Linked DNA regions of Homo sapiens. The protein of the gene in region 1 interacts with the protein of each later gene in a pairwise test. Each region holds a gene or a part of one and is shown on either strand. Other genes may lie near its edges. The genes, in order: ARL15 and CCDC90B.

Region 1 (3,821 bases):
CAAGCTACCAACAGGATGTCACTGAGCACAGAGTTGGGAAGAGAAGCAAACAGGTGACCCTTGCCAGCCAGGGCACACCAACTGCAGTCCCCACTGTTTCCCTAACACATAACAATATGTCAAACATAGGAGCTAGATGTTCAGTGGATGACTGAAATACAGTTATTAACTGGTTAGGACTTGATCATATGCAATAAATTGGTGAAATTCCTTGAAATCTAATTGTCGTTATATAACCAGTAGCACCCCTTTCCTACACATGCACACATATTGCCCCTCCTATTCTTGAATGAAAGTGATGAAAACAGTCACCATGATGTAATGGGAAGTGCCTATGCCTTCCCTGGGCAGGTTGTCTGCTAACTCATGCAAATCCCAATTTTGTGATTTATTAGATACATGACAAGGGATCACTTACTTTACCTCTGTCTGCCTCAGTTTCCTCAGAGAGTTGGACTAAATCATCTCTAGAGTTTGTTCTAGTCTCAAATTTGTAAAGCTTAATTAGTATATAATTTTACTCCCTCATTCCCTCAATTTTCATTATTCCAGTACTGAACTTTGAGTTAGATGTTGTGCTATATAATGGAAATACAAAGAGGAATACTACATGACATGCCTTGGCTGATGAGACTCTCCATGTGGTGTTGCTTTTTTTTTTTTTTTTCTTGAGATGGAGCCTTGCTGTGTTGCCCAGGCTGGAGTGCAGTGGCGCGATCTTGGCTCACTGCAACCTCCACCTCCCGGGTTCAAGCGATCCTCCTGCCTCAGCCTTAGCTTCCCAAGTAGCTGGGATTACAGGCACCCGCCGCCACGCCCGGCTAATTTTTGTATTTTTAGTAGAGATGGGGTTTCACCATGTTGGCCAGGCTGGTCTTGAACTCCTGACCTCAGGTGATTCACCTGCCTTGGCCTCCAAAAGTACTGAGATTACAGGTGTGAACCACCGCGCCCAGCCTCTCCATATGTTTGTTTGTTTGTTTATTTGTTTGTTTTAATAAACATCTTATCTCATTGAGATCATAAGTGTACACCTGTTGTCTGTTATTTTTCCTCATGGGTTATGAAGCCAAACAGAATCATGTAATTGTATCAAAGGCCATGATTTTAGTTTTTCACAAACTTTAGCACTTTGACACATAAAGCTATTGTGCTAATAACTCCCTAGGTGAAATTAAACAAGGCTGTCCTGATCAGCAAGCAGTTCTGTTAAAAAAGTATCACCAAGCTAATGTTAATGGTTTGGAAAGAAGCGTTGGTGGATGTCTAGGCCATGCAGCTCTCTGAGGCAGGTTCAGTCTCAATTTTTAGAGAGTGTGTAGTTCATTTGAGATGATTAAAGTCTGAAAATATCCTTTTGAGTTTAAGTCTAGGAAGTATTTATCCTGGTTCTCTCACACACATTTTTATATAAAAGTCATTAAGAATGGCTTGGATTTTGTGTCTTCCTTCAAGGCCAAATCTACCTATTGGCTCTACTGCCTTCTTTGTTCCCATCCACTGTGATTTCTGCCTTTTCTAAATTCCTGTTTTAATCCATACCACAGAGTTTAGCACTTAATTTTTAAAAGGTACATTGGTTTCCAGTAGGAATTACTGTTGGGAACATTTTTCAGTTGCTGAAAGCTCTTTTTAAAACGAAAATTTGTTTTGTTTTTGACAGGGGCTGATAACATCCGGAAATACTGGAGCCGCTACTACCAAGGATCTCAAGGGGTAATATTTGTATTAGACAGTGCCTCTTCAGAGGATGATTTAGAAGCTGCTAGAAATGAGCTGCACTCAGCTCTTCAGCATCCACAGTTATGCACTTTACCCTTTTTAATATTGGCCAATCATCAAGACAAGCCAGCAGCTCGCTCAGTACAAGAGGTATGTCTCATTAGCATGACAACTCTTTGTCTTCCTTGCTTGTACTTTTGCTGCCACGTTGGAACCTGGAAAAATGCATGTAATTAGGAATGTGCTGGTTATGCTGCTTTCAACATGAAACCTTAGTTTTCATAGGAAGCAGAAAGCCTATATCAATCTGTTAGCACTTGTTTACATACCTAACCCTACTTGGAGAGCACAGAGTTTTCTAGCTATTTAGCAATGGTTAAAAGATGTTTCTGGTTATATTTTTCATCTATTTTGAGGGGCTAAAGGCCTGGTTATTTAATGTTGTTTTAACCTGTGGACTTAGTTCATTCTCTTCTTCAGCTTTTCTAGGAACATATCGTGAGTATTTCCATGCATTACTCGCCTTCAGGTGTCATGTTCTTGTTCCTCTGAAGTGTTCAATGTTGACTAGGATTAATGGATCCTATTCTGTAATCTGCTAGGCTGAAAATTGATGTCTTGCAAATTCCATGCCATCAAATACATTTTAACATGGAACCAATGTTTATCTTCCTCATTTAATTTTATTTCTTAGCTTGTATCTCTCCTATAAAAGCATGAGACTAATTCTAGGCAAATAGAGTCTCAGCCAATAGAGCTTGTGATTCATGGTACTGCAGTAATGAGATATGTGAATAGTTTTTAAAACTTAAATTATAGTGAATTATAACGTAAGTACAGTGAAATCAAAACTCCTGATGTATTCCTTTATACTTGTAACTTTCAGGATATGATTTCCCCTCTCCTTCAGAAAATTGCATGCTTCCTCAAGTGATTTTGGAATGAGATGATTAATATGAACAATCTTGCCTTTCAGCCTGAAAAATAAATGAGGAGCCAAGGACATAACATGTTCTAACTCCAGACCTCCCTCACACTTAGTGTGTGACCCACGGCAGATAGCCTATTCTTGTGCCTGGCTTCTCACCTCTAAAATGAGAATAATCCAATTTATTATGATAAGTTAATAGGATTAATTTGGATAATTTACTTTGAAGTTTAAACACCTAAGTAGAAGAACCATATAAATAGAGTTTTTATTCAAATTTTAGAAACACAGTTTAAAAAAAAGAAAGGCAAGGACCCATTATTCAACAGACAGAGCTCATGTCTCACTTTAGTTGCCTCATTCAGCATTAAGTACGTAGCACCTTTTAAAGAATAGAGTTTGAAAAATACCTTATAGATAATATTAAGTAATTAAGTAAAAAACAGCAATAAAAATCTATTCAGAAAGTCATTAATGTGAAGATCTTCAGCATTATAATGATGGTGTCTCCTAATGTGCTTTTAAGACCTTAGTTTGTAAATCTTTTAACTTCTCAGCATCAGTTTTTCTGCCTATAGAGTAGATATAATAGTATGTAATGAAGGGTAGTTTATGATTATAAGGTCGTTTGCTGAGAATGCATTGTTATTCAGCTATTCATTCTAAAAAATCTTGTAATATGTATGTGTACACTACTACATGTAGACAGTATAATGTGTGTATGTAATATATACATAATACATATACACATTGATAAAACATAGATATAAGTGCCATTTTAACTTCAGATAACTTTATTCAAGTTATTTGCAATATCTGAAAAAAGATTTTTTCTTTCTGCTTTTAAAGTTATGAACCTGTGTATCTGTTTTCCTTAGACATCATATAATTGAAAGTAATGTATCTTTAAACCTAACATATGACTTATGGTTACCCTCCATAGGAATGAAAGATGATCACATTGAATAAAGGAAGCTTTTAGCAATTAATTGCTTCTGAGTATTCCTTGTGTGTGTTGACTGGCTGTCTTTCCTAGGTAAAGAGCAAATATCTTTTTCCTTCTTTTTGTGATTCATCTTTCAGTAAGACTGATAGTTATAAATGTAGCGTTGTCATAGATATGGTCTGAAAATGATTCTAAACTTGTGTATACTGGAGCATATGTGGCTTT
Region 2 (3,821 bases), on another chromosome or scaffold:
CTGCTATAATAAAAATTATAAGTATTAAAAATAAAACCCAAGACTCCAAAAAATATATCCTGAGACTGGAACCTTCTTTAAGCACTACAGGGGACCAAGCAATAAAGGAGCCTTGTTATCTAGCTCCTCCTTTTTTTCCTGTGCCTGCTCAGTTACCTTGATAGGTAGAACTAACAGGAAAATTAGATGACAGCAATTTCTTTCTCTGACAGTCTTACCTGCAAGATAACGAATTGTCTCAAGTTTGTTAGATTCCATCAGTGTTTTTAAGGAAGCAATTTCAGCGTCAATTTTATTACTGGTCTCTGAAATAATACTTTTGGTTTGAGTATCCTGTGGTAAACCAGAATAAGAGAACTTAATTTTGTCCCTATGTATTAAATGGACAAAAGCATTTACATTATAAACCCTCACTTATGGGCTAATTGTGATATAAAAGTCTTAGTTGGGGAAACATTAAAAGCATAGTGGTGTAAAAAAATTTGAAGTGTTCCAAGATGGCCAAAAGGGAACAGCTCCACTCTGCAGCTCCCAGCGTGATCAACGCAGAAGACGGGTGATTTCTGCATTTCCAACTGAGGTACCTGGTTCATCTCATTGGGACTGGTTGGACAGTGGGTGCAGCGCACGGAGGGTGAGCTGAAGCAGGGTGGGGCATTGCCTCACCCTGGAAGCGCAAGGGGTCAGCGGATTTCCCTTTCCTAGCCAAGGGAAGCCATGACAGACTACCTGGAAAAATGGGACACTCCTGCCCAAATACTGCACTTTTCCCAAGGTCTTAGCAACTGGCAGACAAGGAGATTCTCTCCTGTGCCTGGCTCAGCGGGTCCCACGCCCACGGAGCCTTGCTCACTGCTAGCACAGCAGTCTGAAATCGAACTGTGAGGCAGCAGACTGGCTGGGGAAGGGGCATCCGCCATTGCTGAGGCTTGAGTAGGTAAACAAAGTGGCAGGGGAGCTTGAACTGGGCTGAGCCCACCACAGCACAACAATGCCTACTGTCTCTAGACTCCACCTCTGTGGGCAGGGCATAGCTGAACAAAAGGCAGCAGACAACTTCTGCAGACTTAAATGTCCCTGTCTGACAGCTGTGAAGACAGCAGTGGTTCTCTCACGACAGCGTTTGAGCTCTGAGAACGGAGAGACTGCTTCTTCAATTGGGTCCCTGACCCCTGTGTAGCCTAACTGGGAGACATCTTCCAGTAGGGGCTGACACACACCTCATATAGGCGGCTGCACCTCTGGGACAAAGCTTCCAGAGGAAGGATCAGGCAGCAATATTTGCTGTTCTGCAGCCTCTGCTGGTGATACCCAGGTAAACAGGGTCTGGAGTGGACCTCCAGCAAACTCCAACAGACCTGCAGCTGAGGGTCCTGACTGTTAGAAGGAAAACTAACAAACAGAAAGGAATAGCATCAACATCAACAAAAAGGTCATCTACACCAAAACCCCATCTGTAGGTCACCAACATCAAAGACCAGAGGTAGATAAAACAACAAAGATGGGGAAAAACCAGAGCAGAAAAGCTGAAAATTCTAAAAATCATAGTGCCTCTTCTCCTCCAGAGGATTGCAGCTCCTTGCCAGCAATGGCAAGAAGAAAACTGGACTGAGAATGACTGATGAGTTGACAGAAGCAGGCTTCACAAGGTCGGTAATAACAAACTCCTCCAAGGTAAAGGAGGATGTTTGAACCCATTGCAAGGAAGCTAAAAACCTTGAAAAAAGATTAGACGAATGGCTAACTAGAATAAACAGTGTAGAGAAGACCTTAAATGACCTGATGGAGCTGAAAACCATGGCACGAGAACTTCGTGATGCATGCCCAAGCTTCAACAGCTGATACAATCAAGTGGAAGACAGGTACCAGTGACTGAAGATCAAATTAATGAAATAAAGCGAGAAGACAAGGTTAGAGAAAAAAGAGTAAAAAGAAACGAACAAAGCCTCCAAGAAATATGGGACTATGTGAAAAGATCAAATCTACGTTTGATTGGTGTACCTGAAAGTGGGAGAATGGAACCAAGTTGGAAAACACTTCAGGATATTATCCAGGAGAACTTCCCCAACCTAGCAAAGCAGGCCAACATTCAAATTCAGGAAATACAAAGAACATCACAAAGATACTCCTTAAGAAGAGCAACCCCAAGACACATAATTATCAGATTCACCAAGGTTGAAATGAAGGAAAAAGTGTTAAGGGCAGCCAGAAAGAAAGGTCAAGTTACCCACAAAGGGAAGCCCATCAGACTAACAGCGGACCTCTTGGCAGAAACCCTACAAGCCAGAAGAGAGTGGGGGCCAATATTCAACATTCTTATAGAATTTTCAACCCAGAATTTCATATCTAGCCAAACTAAGCCTCATAAGTGAAGGAGAAATAAAATCCTTTACAGACAAGCAAATGCTGAGAGATTTTGTCACCACCAGGCCTGCCCTAAAAGAGCTCCTGAAGGAAGCACTAAACATGGAAAGGAACAACCAGTACCAACCACTGCAAAAACATGCCAAATTGTAAAGACCATCGATGCTATGAAGAAACTGCATCAATTAATGGGCAAAATAACCAGCGAACATCATAATGACAGGATCAAATTCACACATAACAATATTAACCTTAAATATGAATGGACTAAATGCCCCAATTAAAAGACACAGACTGGCAAATTGGATAGAATCAAGACCCATCAGTGTGCTGTACTGAGGAGACCCATCTCACGTGCAAAGATGCACATAGGCTCAAAATAAAGGGATGCAGGAAGATGTACCAAGCAAATGGAAAGCAAAAAAAAAAAAAGCAGGGGTTGCAATCCTAGTCTCTGATAAAACAGACTTTAAACCAACAAAGATCAAAAGAGACAAAGAAGGCCATTACATAATGGTAAAGGGATCAATTCAACAAGAAGAGCTAATTATCCTAAATATATATGCACCCAATACAGGAGCAGCCAAATTCATAAAGCAAGTCCTTAGAAACCGACAAAAAGACTTAGACTCCCACATAATAATAATGGGAGACTTTAACACTCCACTGTCAATATTAGATAGATCAACGAGACAGAAGGTTAACAAGGATATCCAGGACTTGAACTCAGCTCTGCAACAAGCAGACTTAATAGACATCTACAGAACTCTCCAACCCAAATCAACAGAGTATACATTCTTCTCAGCACCACATCACACTTATTCTAAAACTGACCACATAATTGGAAGTAAAGCACTTGCACTCCTCAGCAAATGTAAAAGAACAGAAATCACAACAAACTGTCTCTCAGACCACAGTGCAATCAAATTAGAACTCAAGATTAAGAAACTCACTCAAAACTGCACAACTACATGGAAACTGAACAACCTGCTACTGAATGACTACTGGGTACATAACGAAATGAAGGCAGAAATAAAGATGTTCTTTGAAACCAATGAGAACAAAGACACAACGTACCAGAATCTCTGAGACACATTTAAAACAGTGTGTAGAGGGAAATTTATAGCACTAAATGCCCACAAGAGAAAGCAGGAAAGATCTAAAATCGACACCCTAACATCACAATTAAAAGAACTAGAGAAGCAAGAGCAAACACATTCAAAAGCTAGCAGAAGGCAATAAATAACTTCTGCTGCTTCTTATCTCTTTCAGAGGTAAGAGATAAGAGACACAACAAACCCTTAAAAAAGAGATAAGAGACACAACAAACCCTTAAAAAAACAATCAATGAACCTAGGAGCTGGTTTTTTGAAAAGATCAACAAAATTGATAGACCACTAGCCAGACTAATAAAGAAGAAAAGAGAGAAGAATCAAATAGATGCAACAAAAAATGAT

Evidence for each region.
Region 2: the proteins of ARL15 (region 1) and CCDC90B interact in a two-hybrid assay, tested with the Homo sapiens proteins (one large-scale study listed by BioGRID and IntAct).

What each region holds. Positions count from the first base shown.
Region 1 is NC_000005.10:54,111,253-54,115,073, reverse strand, and holds part of ARL15 (ADP-ribosylation factor-like protein 15), read left to right. Parts: intron 1-1,663; coding exon 1,664-1,872; coding exon of another isoform or gene 1,873-1,959; exon of another isoform or gene 1,960-3,639; intron 3,640-3,821.
Region 2 is NC_000011.10:83,265,647-83,269,467, forward strand, and holds part of CCDC90B (coiled-coil domain-containing protein 90B, mitochondrial isoform 1 precursor), read right to left. Parts: intron 334-3,821; coding exon 219-333; intron 1-218.